Regions from separate parts of the Homo sapiens genome. Here region 2 is linked to region 1. The links come from fine-mapping of genetic effects on gene expression. Tissue or cell type: sun-exposed skin. Region 1 holds a variant in brackets; the other region holds the start of a gene. All regions are shown on one strand. Distances are from middle to middle.

Region 1 (8,253 bases):
ATCTTCATTGTTGCTGGGATGAGCCACATAACATGACATGCCCCTTTGAAAGTCAATGTCATGGACAGTTAGCGTTTGCTTTTCACTCCTGCACCCGTGGCTTGGCTGGGCTTAGGCTGATCTAGTCTGGGCTTGACTCCAGGCTGAGGGTTGGAACCCTGCGTGCTCCACACGCCTCTCATCCTGCAGCTGGAGCCGAAGTTCCCTGGGGCACGCTCGTCTCGTGGGAAAAATCAAGAGCATTAGAGGGCAGGCCTGGCAGTGCCAACACATTCCAGGCTTCTGCCTGTGCCGTGTCTATGAAAATCTTGTTGGCATAAGCAAGTTACCCAGCCACGAGCAATACCTATGGGATGGATAAGTCTATCCACCCTCCCTCGGGCCCTGGTAAGGACGTGGATGTGTCATACTCTTACAGGGGTAGTGAAATAGTGAGGCCCAACATTAAATCACCTACAGCAAGATACATCAGCCTCTGTGTCCCCACGCTGGAATCATGCTTCACCAGCAGGTTTACCTGAGCTGACTCCCCTTTGCAATGGTGCCTGCAGGTTTAGGCCAATGCTGTTCCTTGTGGAAGACAGAGAAGCCTCAGTTGGCCTCCGACTGTTGGCAAGAACAACATATTAAGTTGGCACAAAACAACCAGAAGCCCCAGGTGGCCCGTGCCCAGTGAGATAGGAGAGGGGCAGGAAGAACTGTGGAAGCTCAGGGAGGCTCTCATCCCCAGCCCCCTCCCCACTAGTCCCCATCTCTGCTTTCTTTTTCCTGTTTTTTTTTTTGTTTTGTTTTGTTTTTTTGAGACAGGGTCTGACTCTGTCACCCAGGCTGGAGTGCAATGTTGTGATCTTGGCTTACTCCAACCTCTGCATCCCAGGCTCAAGTAGTCCTCCCACTTCAGCCTCCCCAGTGGCTGGGACCAGAGGCACATGCCACCACACCCAGCTAAATGTTTTGTTTTTGTTTTGTAGAGACAGGGTTTTGTTGTGTTGCCCAGGCTGGTCTCGAACTCCTGAGCTCAAGCAATCTGTCCACCCAGCTAAATGTTTTGTTTTTGTTTTGTAGAGACAGGGTTTTTTTGTGTTGCCCAGGCTGGTCTCGAACTCCTGAGCTCAGGCAATCTGCCCACCTACACCTCCCAAAATTCTGGGATTGCAGACATGAGTCACTGAGTCCAGCCTGCTTTATTTTTTTTAACAGTACTTGGAACCTTCTAATGTACTAAGTACACATGTATTTTCTTTTTTTTCCTCTCTTCCCTAGAATAGGAGCTTAACGTGGGCGAGTATTTTTGTTTATCTCATTTATCACCCTATCCCCAGTGGCTGGAATAGCGTCTGGCACATGAATGGTGTGTTCTAAATAAATATTTTTAACAAATAAATGAAATATCCTACAAGAGAAAGCTAGTATTTGGAACTCACCCATCAACAGAACCAAAAAGCCGAAGACCTTCAGCCTGTCCCTACCTCTGAATGCACCCAGCCCCAGCAGATTAAAAACAGGAACAAAGTTGGGGAAGGGAGCAGGTGGTGCCACCCCGACCAAGGACCCCTGAGGCTTAGGCTGAATTTGAGCTGGAGAAGGGACTAACCTAGGAACTGGGCGTGAGATTAAAGTTGAGACTTGTCTGGCCTGGATTTTGTAACACCGAAACATGAGCTATTCCATTCATTTTTGTTTTTGTTTTTTTTGAGACAGAGTCTTGCTCTGTCTCCCAGGCTGGAGTGCAGTGGCATGATCTCAGCTCACTGCAGCCTCCGCCTCCCAGGTTCAAGTGATTCTCCTGCCTCAGCCTCCTGAGTAGCTGGGATTACGGGCGCCCATCACTAGACCCAGCTAATCTTTGTATTTTCAGTAGAGACAGGGTTTCACCATGTTGACCATGCTGGTCTCGAACTCCTGACCTCAAGTGATCTGCCCACCTTGGCCTCCCAAAGTGCTGGGATTACAGACATGAGCCGGCGCCTGGCCATATTCCACTCATTATTAGCAAGTCTGCTATTATAAATCAAGGTGACCAAAATCCTAGGAAAACTTCCCCAGATGTCATCAAGGAGCAGAGACCAGAGACCTATCAGCAGGATGGGGACTAGGGCGAGGCAGGGGAGGGAGGCGCTCATCTCTGGATTATCAGGGTGCAGCAAGTGAGGCATAAAATTTAAGGGGGCACCAAAAAATTCAGGATCAAAATAAATAATATTTTAGTGCAGAATTTTTTTAAAAAGTTAAATTCAATGCAAAAAAAAAAAAAACCCTAATGGGAAAGTTAACAACATTTCAACTAAGACACAATATGACCCTGTATTTGCATGACTTGGCCTCACTCACTCACCCTAATCTGGCCCCTGCCTCACAGAAGCTGCTGGAATGCAGCGGCTAGAGAACAATGAAGCTGTTTTCTGCTCCTATCCAATTCAGACCTTCCATAAAGCAGCTACAGGTGAGACCGTGATGAGCTGCCTATGCCAACCAGGACCACAATCTACCATTAGGACCACAGTGACCGGGTCCATGTTGCCTGTCCCCAGCTGTGCCCGGACGCTTTGGCTTAGAGGCTCAGGCCAGTGCTGCTTCTCCCGTTGACACCGGGCACTCATGAAGAGAAAACAGACAAGGCCGGGCACGGTGGCTCATGCCTGTAATCCCAGCACTTTGGGAGGCTGAGGTGGGCAGATGACCTGAGGTCAGGAGTTCCAGACCAGCCTGGCCAACATGGTGAAACCCCCGTCTCTACTAAAAATACAAAAATGAGCAGGCATGGTGGTGCCCAGCTGAGGCACAAGAATCACTTGAACCCAGGAGGTAGAGGTCGCAATATCGGGCAGCTGCACTCCAGCCTGGGTGAGAAAGTGAGACTCTGTCTCAAAAAAAAAAAAAAAGAGAAAACAGCCTCGGTTATAGGAACTCAGGCCTCCACACAGACACAATCAAGAAGCTTAGTTATTTAAAATGCAGCTAGCTCCGTGTGGGGGTAGGTTGGGGAATGATTCTTATTTTCTACTTTATTCTCTTTCTCTGTTACTTGGCGTCTCTGGCCATGAGCCTGTCATTTCTGTAATTAGAGCACAGATTGTGGGGAGGGGAAGGACAGGCCGCCTGGCAATGTGGTCCTGTTTTTCCTGGACCAGGCTTTGTGTGAGGACCTGTGCCCAGCGGGCAGATTCGGGTCCCTGAGGAAAGAGGAGGAGCCAGGTAGTGGGACATTTGAGGTGACAGCCCTTCCCCAGCTGCCCAGGGCCCGCTTGGCACCAATGGTCATTCCCAGCATGTTGGGTTGGCCTTCGGGGGTCTGGTCAGGACTCTCGGGGCCATCAGGGTCTGGCAGACCCAGTTCTGGGTGTGAAGACACCTGGGGCATCTAGACGCCCTCTCCGGCCACTCACACACCCAGCACTGAGAGGCCACAGCACGTCTGCCCACGCCTCTGTCCTTGTTCACTTGGCAGCTGGCCAGTCATCGTGGACACTGACCGTAGCTCGAGTGTAGGGTCCCCAGGTTTCTGCTGGGCCAGCAATTGTGCCCCTTGTGCTGCTGTATCTTGGGGTGCCAGTACAGGGTCTCCATAGGGATAGAGACAGCATCTCTGCACCAACCAGTGGGCACACAGCTGTGTTTCAGTACAAACACCTGGGCCAGCTGGACAACGCAGCCTGGGCCCAGCAGCTCTGATTTGCCTGAATCCCAGAGTTGGCATGGTGGGGTCATTCTTTCCAGCCAAACCAGAGAGCACGTCCTTGGGCAGGATGAGGAGGGTTCAGAGCAGGTGAATGGAGCTCTGCAGGGAATGACATCTCCTCCAAGAAGTGAGGGCCCTGAAATAAATCCAGGGACACTCTCTGAGCATCCCCAGGGGGCACACTCAGCCTCAGGGAGCAGAGAAATGTCAGCCGGCAAGGATAGGTCTGTGCTCTGCGGATGGGCCAGAAAGAGGGGGTGCAGCAAAGGAATCATAGTCGCAGAGGAGAAAACGGCCAGAGTCACAGCCTGATTTGTCCCTTTCTCACTGGGTGCTGCCAGGAGTCCAGTCCAAGCCAGCGACTCCCGAGCACAGGTATCAAAATGGACTGAGACCCTCTAATCGCCTCCTGGTGTCTTGAGATAGCCTCCTACCCACCGGCCCCCAACACGGGGCCCTGCACTGGCTTCTCCAAGAAGAAACTGGGGGGCTGAGGGGCTGACCTGTGGGGACACCTTTCACTCAGTGCCCGAGAACCTGCTGAATGTTTAACTTATCCTTAAAAAACATGCCTGCCTCTTTGCATGTCTAACTCTCTGTAAGGAGCATGTGTTACTTTGCTAAAGAAGGAAAACATCACTCCAGACCACCTGTGCATTTAGCAAACACCAATTCCCAGCCCAGAGCAGATTTGCTGCTGCAAAAAAGCAAAAGCTCAAAACCCATGTGGAG[A/C]CTTCAGAGGCCGCCTGGCCCCCAGCTCACCCTTCGGAATGCACTGACGGATGTGCTTGGGGCTGTTTCTTCTTGGTGTCTGGTGTCAGGAAAGAGAAGACACAGGGACACCAGTTGGGGGTTTAATCCCATCAGACCCAATCCTCGGTTCTCTGTGCCCCTTACATTACCCCCATCGAGACGCCGCTGGGGCTGAATGAACCACGAGCTGCTGCCCTGAGCAGGGAGTCAGATCCGTCCTCGGTCAGATGGTTGAAGCCGTGCATGACCTCTAGGGCCCTGCATGGGGATGGGGAGTCACACCTCGGTTTTATCTCACAGCAGGGATGACCCCTCACTGGGCACCCCAGCTCAGACCTCAAGGGAAACAGACCCGGGGGAAGGTGGGTGGAAGGATGGGGCCCCTGGTAGTAGGACTCACAGGGCAAGAGACCCCACCCACTCGGGCGATTCACACTCGGGGTCTTTGGGGCCCTCGCAAGAAAAGTTGGTTCACAGTGAACATAGGTCCTGCCATCCAGGGTCACAATTATCTGCAGCAGGGACAAACACCCACTCCCAAAAGATGAATTCAGTAAGGCAGAAACTTTAGCTCAAGATGAATTTATTGAAAATGATCCTTAGGCTGCCTGACGGAGTTTAAATGTTGTCAAATGCCTTTCAAAGGAGATTTGGTTCTTTATTGCTCTTCCTCAACCATGGGGGCCGGGAAATGATCTTCCCGAGACATGCAGGAGGGAAGCTGAGTTCACCAACACCTTCACCTTCACCCCTGCAAGGCCAGGCCCCCTCGCCACTGCTGCTAACCCAGGTCCCCTTTTGGCAAACCCAGAAAACTCACATTCCCGTTCAGTGTGATTTCAGATCTATACATGAATTAAGTGGGGTGTTTAAAAATGAAGCAATGGGAGTGTTGGGGAAAAAGTATTCTCAGGAAATGTGCATCTTGTGCTCCAGCCACGTGGTCCCCCCACCTCCGACGGCTTCAGGGCAGCTCCGTGGCCAGCTGCGCCTCCTCCCCAGAGTCAGCAGCAAGCTCAGGACATACTGCTTTCTGCAGTTCCAGGTCAGACCCTGGCCCTGGCTCCAGCCCAAGGCCACCTGCATGTGACATCTGGGAGACCCCTTCTTTGTGGCCAGTGATGTCCAAGGATCCTGCAGGGACCTAGAGCCTGTGGTCCCTGAGTCCAACAGAAATGCTGCCTGTGCCAGACAGGTGGCATCAAGCCTGCCATCCAACGCCATGGGCTGCAAGGGTGAACATCTGTGCTGAGTCCGGGGTGTAAGAGAGGCTGTGTCTCTTTCTTTTCTTTAAGTCCACTGCATTGTGACTGCAGCCTCCGTCCCCCTGGGCTGCTAGGAAATGCCATCTCAGCCATTCTTCCTCTCCCAACTTGAGAAGAGGTCCACATCACAGGCCTTGCCAGGGTCTAACGTTGGGAATGAGGGAAGCCAAGCTTTCTGCTCTCAGTCCCTGGTTATCATGAGATGCCACTCGGCCCTTGCAGTCCCTCAGGTGCACTGGGGCGGGCAGTGTAGCGACGATGAGCATAGCATCCAGAAGCGGACTGCCTAGACTCCACGCCACGTGTTGCCACCTATCCCTTGTGCAACCCTGAGCAGTGATTAACCACTCTATGCCTCAGTTTCCTCATCTGTCCAGTGACAGCACCCACCTGCTGAGGAGGTACAGTAAGGTCATAGGAGATGCTTAAACCAATCCCTGGCAAACAGGGGTTCCTCAGGCAGTAGAGGCTGTTCTGTCTGAGGCCCAAGACTGGCAATACCCCTGACACTCTAGGGAACGCAATGCAGGTCTCCGCCACTGTCCAAACACAGGCTTCAGCCAGGTCTCCGCCACTGTCCAAACACAGGCATCAGCCAGGTCTCCACCACTGTCCAAACACAGGCGTCAGCAAGCCTGCGCAGCTCTGCAGAAGGCTCGGCCCACCTGGCTGCTGGCCAAAGGCTCCCACCCTCCTGGACACTTGGGCAAATCTCTTCACTGGTTCAGTATTTTGCAAAAGCCAATAACTTCGGCCTTCTTCGATTCACTTGCCGTTGCCACCCAGTTCCTCCCAGCAGACACCACCCATATCAGTCTTCTGTTGTCACAGTGGTGCTGCATAACAAACCATCGCCCAAACTCAATGGCTTATAACACGAGCTTCTGTCCTCACACTTGGAGTCTGCAGGGTGACTAAGGTTTGGATGATCTGGGGCGGTCTAAGGGCAGCTCTGCTCCAGGCTACGGGTTGGGCTTGGATTGACGACACATGACTTCTTCTAGACCCGGGCACAAGAGGCAGCAGCTCCCCAGGACACACGCTTCTCGTGGCAGTGCACTCACGGCCTCTGCTCACAGTATGTGCGCTCATATTCTGTTGGCCAAAGCAAGTCACATGGCCAAGCCCAAAGTCAGTGGGGCAGGGATGAGTTCTTTAACCACAGTCAGAGAGCGAGGGGATTGACTATCTGCTAAACATTAACCTTAACTTTCACATCACCCCAAACCCTAACTTCTGACATTAGCAAGACTGCCTGCCTGCTTAAAATGGAGGAAAAGAAAAGGGGGAAACAAGAAGAGAAAAAGGTTAATGAATCTTACAAAAAAATTCCCACCAAACCTCCATCCCCACCAGGCTGGCCAAACTGCAACAGCAGACGCTGAAGTTGTTTTAGCCCCAGGAGAGTGTCCTGTGCTGTCACGTGATCTCTCCCATCCATCATTCCTCCCCTCGGCATCCCCACCACACAGGCCTGGCTAAGAGGGCCAAGCCCCTCCAGGATCTCCAAGACCCTGGTGCTTCAAATCCACGCTTACTCTGGGTGAGGTTCCAGATCAAGCTCTGTTGGGACACACTGAAGACACAATCTCTGCCACGAAAAACGTCGTTCTATGGAGGATCTGAGAAAATTCTAGAAAGTATAGACTGTAATCATATTACAGGTACAAGTCCACAAACATGGAAAGTTAATGTGATACCTCCCCAGAGACAAATGCAGAGACAAACAAAGCCAAGAACACTTGTGGCCGGGAGCAGTGGCTCACACCTGTAATCCCAGCACTTGGGGAGGCTGAGGCGGGCAGATCACCTGAGGTCAGAGTTCAAGACCAGCCTAGTCAACATGGCAAAACCCCATCTCTACTAAAAATACAAAAATTAACCGGCGTGGTGGCGGGCGCCTGCAATCCCAGCTACTTGGGAGGCTGAGGCAGGAGAATTGCTTAAATCCAGAAGGCAGAGGTTGCAGTGAGCCAAGATCATGCCACTCCACTCCAGCCTGGGTGACAGACTCCATCTCAAAAAAAAAACCACTTGTGAGGAGCATGGAGAGATCTCTGGGGAAGCTTCTCTGTCCTCCTCTTCTTTGGCCACACCAACACAACAGAGTGTGGGTGCAATAGAGGGGGCCTGTGGGACTCAGGGTGTCAACCTCACTGTGGAGTGAATGGCTCCAGAGCAGTGGTTCTGCAGTCACCAAAGCCACCAACACAACCTGGGTCTCAGATCAGAAATGAGCCGGGAACAGAAGGTTGGCAAGCAGGACTGCCTTAGAAAATCTGAGGCATTAAGCCCCTGACAATGCAACCTATTGCCCGATTCTTGCCCAAACTCAAAGTCTTGAAAAGAACGTTGTGGAGAAAGGGGCAAAATGAGGAGAGGAAATAAGGATTCTGAGAAACAAGGAAAGGGCAATGCCACATTCCCTCTCAAACCACCTGGAGTGAATACATGGTTCCCAATGCACCTGGAGACAAATGATGGTAAAACACTGTGCTATGGATTGGAGAGCCTTCGAAATGTTCTCTCAAAATGACTCCTTAATACAAATGTAGA
Region 2 (6,436 bases), 100 kb after region 1:
ATGAAATGACCCGGTGGAAACAGCCATTGACCGCAGAACCTGCCAGAGTTGCACTGTCCAGCATGGGACCCCTGAGCCACATGTGGCTGGTCCCAATTGAGATGTGCTGTAAGTTTAGAATGTACACCAGATTACAAAACTTAGTAAGAAAAAATAATGTAAAAATATCTCATTAATTTTATATTGATTACATGTTGAAGAGATCGATTTTGGATATACTAGGTTAAGTAAACTATATTATTAATATTAAAATTAATTTCACCTGCTTTTTTCAGACAGGGTCTGACTGTCACCCAGGCTGGAGTACAGTGGAACAATCATGGCTCACTGCAGCCTTCACCTCCCAGGCTCAAAGTGATCCTCCCACATGAGCCTCCCGAGTAGCTGGGACCACAGGCACATGCCACTATGCCCAGCCTAATTTTTGTATTTCTTGTAAAGATGGAGTTTCACCATGTTGCCCATGCTGGTCTGGAACTCCTGAACTCAAGTGATCCGCCCACCTCGGCCTTCCATACTGCTGGGATTACAGGCGTGAGCCACTGTGCCCGGCCCTCACCTGTTTCTTTTTACTTTCTAATGCCACTACTAGAAAATTCTAAATGATATATATGTCCTTCTGCAGAGATGAGGCGGAAGGAGAGGGGTCTCCATTATTTTTCGGTCTATGATGGTGAAGCCTGACATTCTGTCCCAGGGCAAAGAAGGTGGGAGCTGTTCAGCCTTATCAGTGATGCCAAAGGTAGGGCCAGCACCTGACTTGGAAAAGCAAGTGCAAGGTTTTTCTGATTTATTTAGGCTCTAACTTGATTGGCGTGGCTAACAGAGGTTATGGGGAGGAGCCTAGAGCTCCAAACCCAGTCAGGAGATCCGATTTGAATTTCAGATTTAAAAATGAATGATTTTTTAGTACTAACTTCCTCCCCGTGGATGTCTATATTTATTTGTTAAGTCTGACAACTCTACCATGGAGGATCATATCAGAGAAAGGAGATGCTAGGTTGAAAAGTAAAAACATCCTAGGATTTAAGAGCATGAGCCGGGAGCTAAGGCTTCTTGGCTTCACAGGATCCACCACTTATAACTGTGTGATCTTCGGACAGTTACTAAACCTCTCTTGGTTTCCATGGTAAAACGGGCATAGTAACTTACTGTGTGAGATTGTCACAAGATTTAATAAGTTACTGCTGTTTACAAGTGCTTTCCCACAGCGGCGTCTGTTTCCCCTTAGCTAGCAACTCGGCTGTGTTTTCTGCAGCTGCTGGTGAGTTCTCTGCCCGCTCTTTGCCCACCCGCGTCAGGCCGGTCCCCCTCCGGCCTCTTCTGTGGCGCGAGGGACAGCGGAAACCACGGTAGACAGCACCCCCTTGAGTCCAATTCCTCCCCTTTCGGAGGAAGCCGGTTTCTCCTTTCTATGCTACTCCCGGGCCATTTCTGGACAACAGCTGCTATTTTCACTTGAGCCGAAGTTAATTTCTCGGGGAGTTCTCGGGCGCGCACAGGCAGCTCGGTTTGCCCTGCGATTGAGCTGCGGGTCGCGGCCGGCGCCGGCCTCTCCAATGGCAAATGTGTGTGGCTGGAGGCGAGCGCGAGGCTTTCGGCAAAGGCAGTCGAGTGTTTGCAGACCGGGGCGAGTCCTGTGAAAGCAGATAAAAGAAAACATTTATTAACGTGTCATTACGAGGGGAGCGCCCGGCCGGGGCTGTCGCACTCCCCGCGGAACATTTGGCTCCCTCCAGCTCCGAGAGAGGAGAAGAAGAAAGCGGAAAAGAGGCAGATTCACGTCGTTTCCAGCCAAGTGGACCTGATCGATGGCCCTCCTGAATTTATCACGATATTTGATTTATTAGCGATGCCCCCTGGTTTGTGTGTTACGCACACACACGTGCACACAAGGCTCTGGCTCGCTTCCCTCCCTCGTTTCCAGCTCCTGGGCGAATCCCACATCTGTTTCAACTCTCCGCCGAGGGCGAGCAGGAGCGAGAGTGTGTCGAGTGAGTGTGCGTCTGTGTGTCCCGGCGAGGGTGCGCGCTCGGCGCCGGGAGCGCGGCCAGCCGAGTCCGGAGGCATCGGGAGGTCGAGAGCCGCCGGGACCCCAGCTCTGCGTTCACTGCCCCGTCCGGAGCTGGACTTCGGGGCCGGGGCCGGGGCCGTGCGCCGGGGACAGGCAGGGCCGGGTCGCGGGCCGCGCGTCCCCCAGGCCGGAGGTAAAAGCGCTAGCGCGCGGAGGGCTCGAGGAGGGCACCGCGGCTGGGCCCCCCGCGCCCCGGGCCCCAGCCGTCCGCGGCTCCCGGCCCGACGCTCCCCGCCCCGGAGCGCGCCCGCCTCCCCTGCGTGGAGGCCGGCGGGCAGGCGAGCGGGGGGCGGTAGCGCCGTGCCAAGGGGCTGGCTGGGGCAGCGTGGCCGGCCGGGCTGGGGCGATTTAAGAGCGGTCCGGGCGGGGTGCGGAGCCGGACTTTGGCTGGGGCGGCGCGCGGGGAGGGGGCCGGGGGCGGTGGCGGCGGCGTTGGGGGGCGGGGAGGAGGCAGGAGGAGGAGCAGCAGCGCTCGCCGGGGGATGCAGCAGCGGCAGCGGCGGCGGCGGCGGCGGCAGCGGCAGCGGCGGCGCGGAGTCCCCTGCGCCCAGCGGCCCGGCCGGGCTGCGGCAGAGGCGGCGGCGGCGCCCCGCTCCGGGTGAGGTTGCCGGGGCCGTGCGCGCTGGTGAGTGGGGCGTGGGGGGCAGGTGGGTGGCTGGGGGACGCGGGGCTCGGGCGGGGGCTCGCGGCGGCCGGAGCCTTCCCCGGCGTGAGCCCGGCCGCGAGCGCCGCCCAGGTGAGCCGGGGCTGGTCCGGACCGCCCGGCTCCAGCCCCAGCGCTGCTTGCGGAGGTGGGTCCGGGCGGGCGGGAGGGAGGCTCCGGCGCCGGCCGTCCGCAGAGGGATGACCTGTTTGACCCCGCTGGCTGGCGGGCGGGCGAGGACTTCCCGCCGCGCCCCTGACCCGCGGACACGGCACACCGAGCACAGGCGGCCCCGGGTAGGGGAGCGCGCCTGGGCCGGCCATCCGCAGGGGCATGGCCTTGTTGACCCTTAGGGTTTAGACCCAAGGGACCGGTAGATGCCAGCCCACGTGGGGCTTGTCCGGGCAGGACTCGGGGAAGCAGTGGGCCGGATCTTCAGAGTGGTTGGAAACTCGCAGACACCGAAAGGACAAACAGGATCGAAAAGGCAGACTTCCTCCCAGGCCAGGGCAGAACGAGTTTCCATCGCCTGGCGGAGGGATGCTCCCCTCCCCGGCTCCTCGGGGTTTCAGAAGTCTAGCGGTGAATTCTAGGAGTGCACTTTTCCAAACATTCCTTATAGTAGTTCGTTCATTCGTTCTACAAGCATTTCTGGAGCACCCCCTCGTGCCGGGCACCGCGTTCTGTTCCAGGGAAACGCGGCTGAACAGGATCTGGCTCCTGCGCGCCAGAAGCTGCCGGTTCACTGGGAGGGCAGCAGGGTAGAGAGATGCCGTCTCGGGGTGGAAGATGGAAAGGGAAGCCTGCAATCCTAGTTTGCACACTGGCCTCGGTCCGCAACTCCCCCACCTGCACGCAGTAGGCCCAGCACACAGTAGGAAGAGCAAGCCAGACCTGCCTGTGACGACCCTCTCCTCCTCCTCCTCCCCCTTGAAAGCTTTGATTCATTCCCTGCCCCCCTTTCTGGAAAGTCTTCCTGCAGCTTGTTTTAATCACTTTTTGAGTTAAAAGTCAATATTTAATTAACCAAGTAATTACATTCAGCTTACGTTTCAATCTGGGTATTTGCTCATCTGTGCGTGTTGGGACACCCGCCCTCTCGCCCCTCCATCTGTCCCCTGCCTGTTTCCCACCGGGTCCACCCCCACTTTTGGGGCAGAGAAGGGGAGGCTGCGCTGGAGCAGGTTCTCAGGGGGAGACAGGGAGCAGGAGAGACGGGCTTTCTCTGGAGGACACCCCCGGATCTGCGCGCTCTCCAAATTTCAGCTTGTAGTGAATAGTGAAGGTGATTTCTTGACAGCCTCTGCCTCCCATTACAGAACCACCAGAGGGTTCTAATTAAATTAGAGCCAATCGTTAAGTATAGGAACGGGGTAGGGAGGACAGAACGAAGGGGGCCCCTTCCCTGTAAGAGATGTTCTCCCCAGCTTCGTCTCTCCCACATCATAGAGAAGAGAAAACTCATCCAGACAGCCTGTCGGATGTGTAATTTAGCGTTCTAATAAGCAGCTTGAAAGGCGAAGGTGGTGGGCTTGGCAGATGGCATGTTGGACCTTTGTACATGAAGGCCTCTTCCTTCCCCAGCTAAATTTATATACATAAAGGCCGTGATGTTGGCATCACTGCTGCAGCTGAGGGTCAATGTGGGTTTGGGGTTTGGGCTTTGTGTGTACTTCTTGGGTTTTTTATTTGAATTTATGGCTTTTTCTGAAACCCTAATAACATGTTAAATTTTCAAACTTGAGAGTAGAGTGATGAGTTGACTGTAAAAGTCTGGTCTTGGAGGAGGACAGCATAGCAGTGTGTGTGCATGCACGTGCATGTCCCCCAGTTCAGCTGCTGTCCAAAGAACCCAGTTGATATGCAGTTTCACACCTGATTTGGACCTGATTTGGGAGATAACATTTCCTTCTCACTTTTTCTGGCACTGGTTAGTTTATCTGCTTGGACCTGCCTCAAGAGGGCAGCTGGGTTAACCAGGCAGAATATCACCCAACTCTGTCAAGCTTTGGCCATTATCTGACCTTAGACTTTAGTCCTGCAGAAGGAGTCCAGAAGCCCTGTCCTACAGAAAAATATCAGCATTTCTGACCAGCTTGTAGTTAAAAGAAAAGGTTTAGTCCAGACTTAAGATAATTGGTAACACTTAAGTAGTTTTGTATGGGCCTGATCTGAGGCATTGATCTAAGCCCTTATACCTTACTCATTAAATCCACACAAATACCCTGTTAAGTAAGTACTGCCATTGTTGCCATATTAAAGATGAGGAAACAGGCACAGAGAGGATTGTGACTTGCCTACAGCTGGTCACAGGTAGAGCTGGGATTCAAGAGGCCCTCAAGCTCCGGGGTCCACTTGGAACCACTGGACTCTCCTCCATGACCTTGGCCTTTGTCCCAGATGTAGAAGAAACACATATGCAGGGGAAGAAAACACCTTCAGACAGTCAAACTTTGCAAAGTAAAAGGCCCTTAACTTTCCATAAACCCCCACTGTTCCGACAGAGAGTCCGGGTTTGTATTTGAGGTTTTTTGCCCCAAGGAAAACATGTGTCTGCCTGGTGCTTTTTCTTCTGCTTATGAGCAGACACACTGTCCCCTCCCCCAGTCAAAATGCAAAGGGAAACATCAAATGCAGCTGATGGAAAAGCCAGGTGAACCATGGTGAAGATTTCAGCCCACTCAGAGCACAGTGGCCAGAGAGCAAAAGCTCTCCTAGAGGTGAGACCTTCCTGTGGTTGGTGATGGAGTCTCGATGGCCTGGCCCTGGGGGTGGTGCCAGGGTGCTCTGTGTCAGGCCTGGGCGGATGTGGAAGATGGGGGCCTCTCTCAATGCTGATCTGCAGGTGAGGGGGCCCTCCCTGAAACCTGCTTTCTCTGGGCCTCCTTGGAATGGGCCTTGGTGGAGATCTACAGACAGCCCTGGCCCAGCCGGATTGAAGGCACTGTCTAATTGGGAGGGCATTAAGATCGTTATAATTAATTGGCATCCCGATAAATGGCATGGTTGCCTAATTGGGGTGGTTGCTAGGGAACGAGGCCTCACTTGGAGCCTAAAGGGGAAGAAGCGCTGGGCTGGCCACAGTTGGGTGTCAGGGTACAGATCCAGCAGTGAATGGACCGGAAGGGAGAGCAGTCCATCCGTATCTGCTGGTGTTTACTGAGCAGCTGCTGTGTGCAAGTTGCAAATGGAGTATCAGTTAGGGGTACTTGCCTAGAAGAACTGTAAAGTAATCAGGTTCCTTTCTCTTGCAAGCAACGGAAAAAGAGAAGAAAAAAACTCAAGCCAGCTTAAGGAGAAAAGAAGTGGACTTACTGGTTTTCATAACCAAAAGTCTTAAGGTGACTAACTCTAGCTTCAGACACAGCTGGACCCACAGCTCAGATTTTGTAATGAGAATCCATTCCTATCCACCGCTCCTCTGCCTTCCATGAGGCTGATGTCTCTCCAGCTCTGGGGCGGGCAGTCCCTGGCAGCTGTGGGCACCGTGGCTAGGAGAGCCAGACTGCCTGGCTCCCTGCCCAGCAGTGGGATCTGGGGCATGCTACTTAACCTTTCTGTGCCTTGATGTTCACATCCAACAAATGATGATGATCATAGCACCTGTCTCCTGCTTGTGGTAAGCATGAAATGAGATGATCAATGTCAAGTGCTTAGCAGGGCGTCTGACCCAGGTGAGCCTTCAGTAGGCATTGACTGTTACCATAACTTAGGTGTCA

Which allele goes with the higher level. Alleles are on the strand shown, and positions count from the first base shown. SD is a standard deviation of normalised expression in the study named.
For the expression in sun-exposed skin of the gene that starts at base 2,561 in region 2, allele C in region 1 goes with a lower level than allele A (moderate effect, 0.41 SD a copy in GTEx).

The links. PIP is the estimated chance that this variant, and not a neighbour inherited with it, causes the effect.
Region 2: it holds the start of SULF2, and the variant in region 1 is fine-mapped to the expression of SULF2 in sun-exposed skin (GTEx, PIP above 0.99).

Annotation. Positions count from the first base shown.
Region 1 is chr20:47,885,015-47,893,267 of GRCh38, reverse strand. No RefSeq gene overlaps it. Among named protein-coding and RNA genes, the nearest start is that of LINC01523, 94 kb to the left of the region's middle. The variant A/C (reference allele first, on the strand shown) is at 4,412.
Region 2 is chr20:47,781,606-47,788,041 of GRCh38, reverse strand. SULF2 (sulfatase 2) reads left to right here and starts at 2,561. Exons shown (of 21, transcript NM_001387048.1): 1 at 2,561-2,699. LOC124904920 (a long non-coding RNA gene) reads right to left here and starts at 2,288. Exons shown (of 2, transcript XR_007067618.1): 1 at 1,880-2,288; 2 at 1,157-1,637. It overlaps LOC124904921 (a long non-coding RNA gene), which reads left to right. Exons shown (of 3, transcript XR_007067619.1): 3 at 626-702. RefSeq lists enhancers at 1,274-1,443, 5,543-5,602.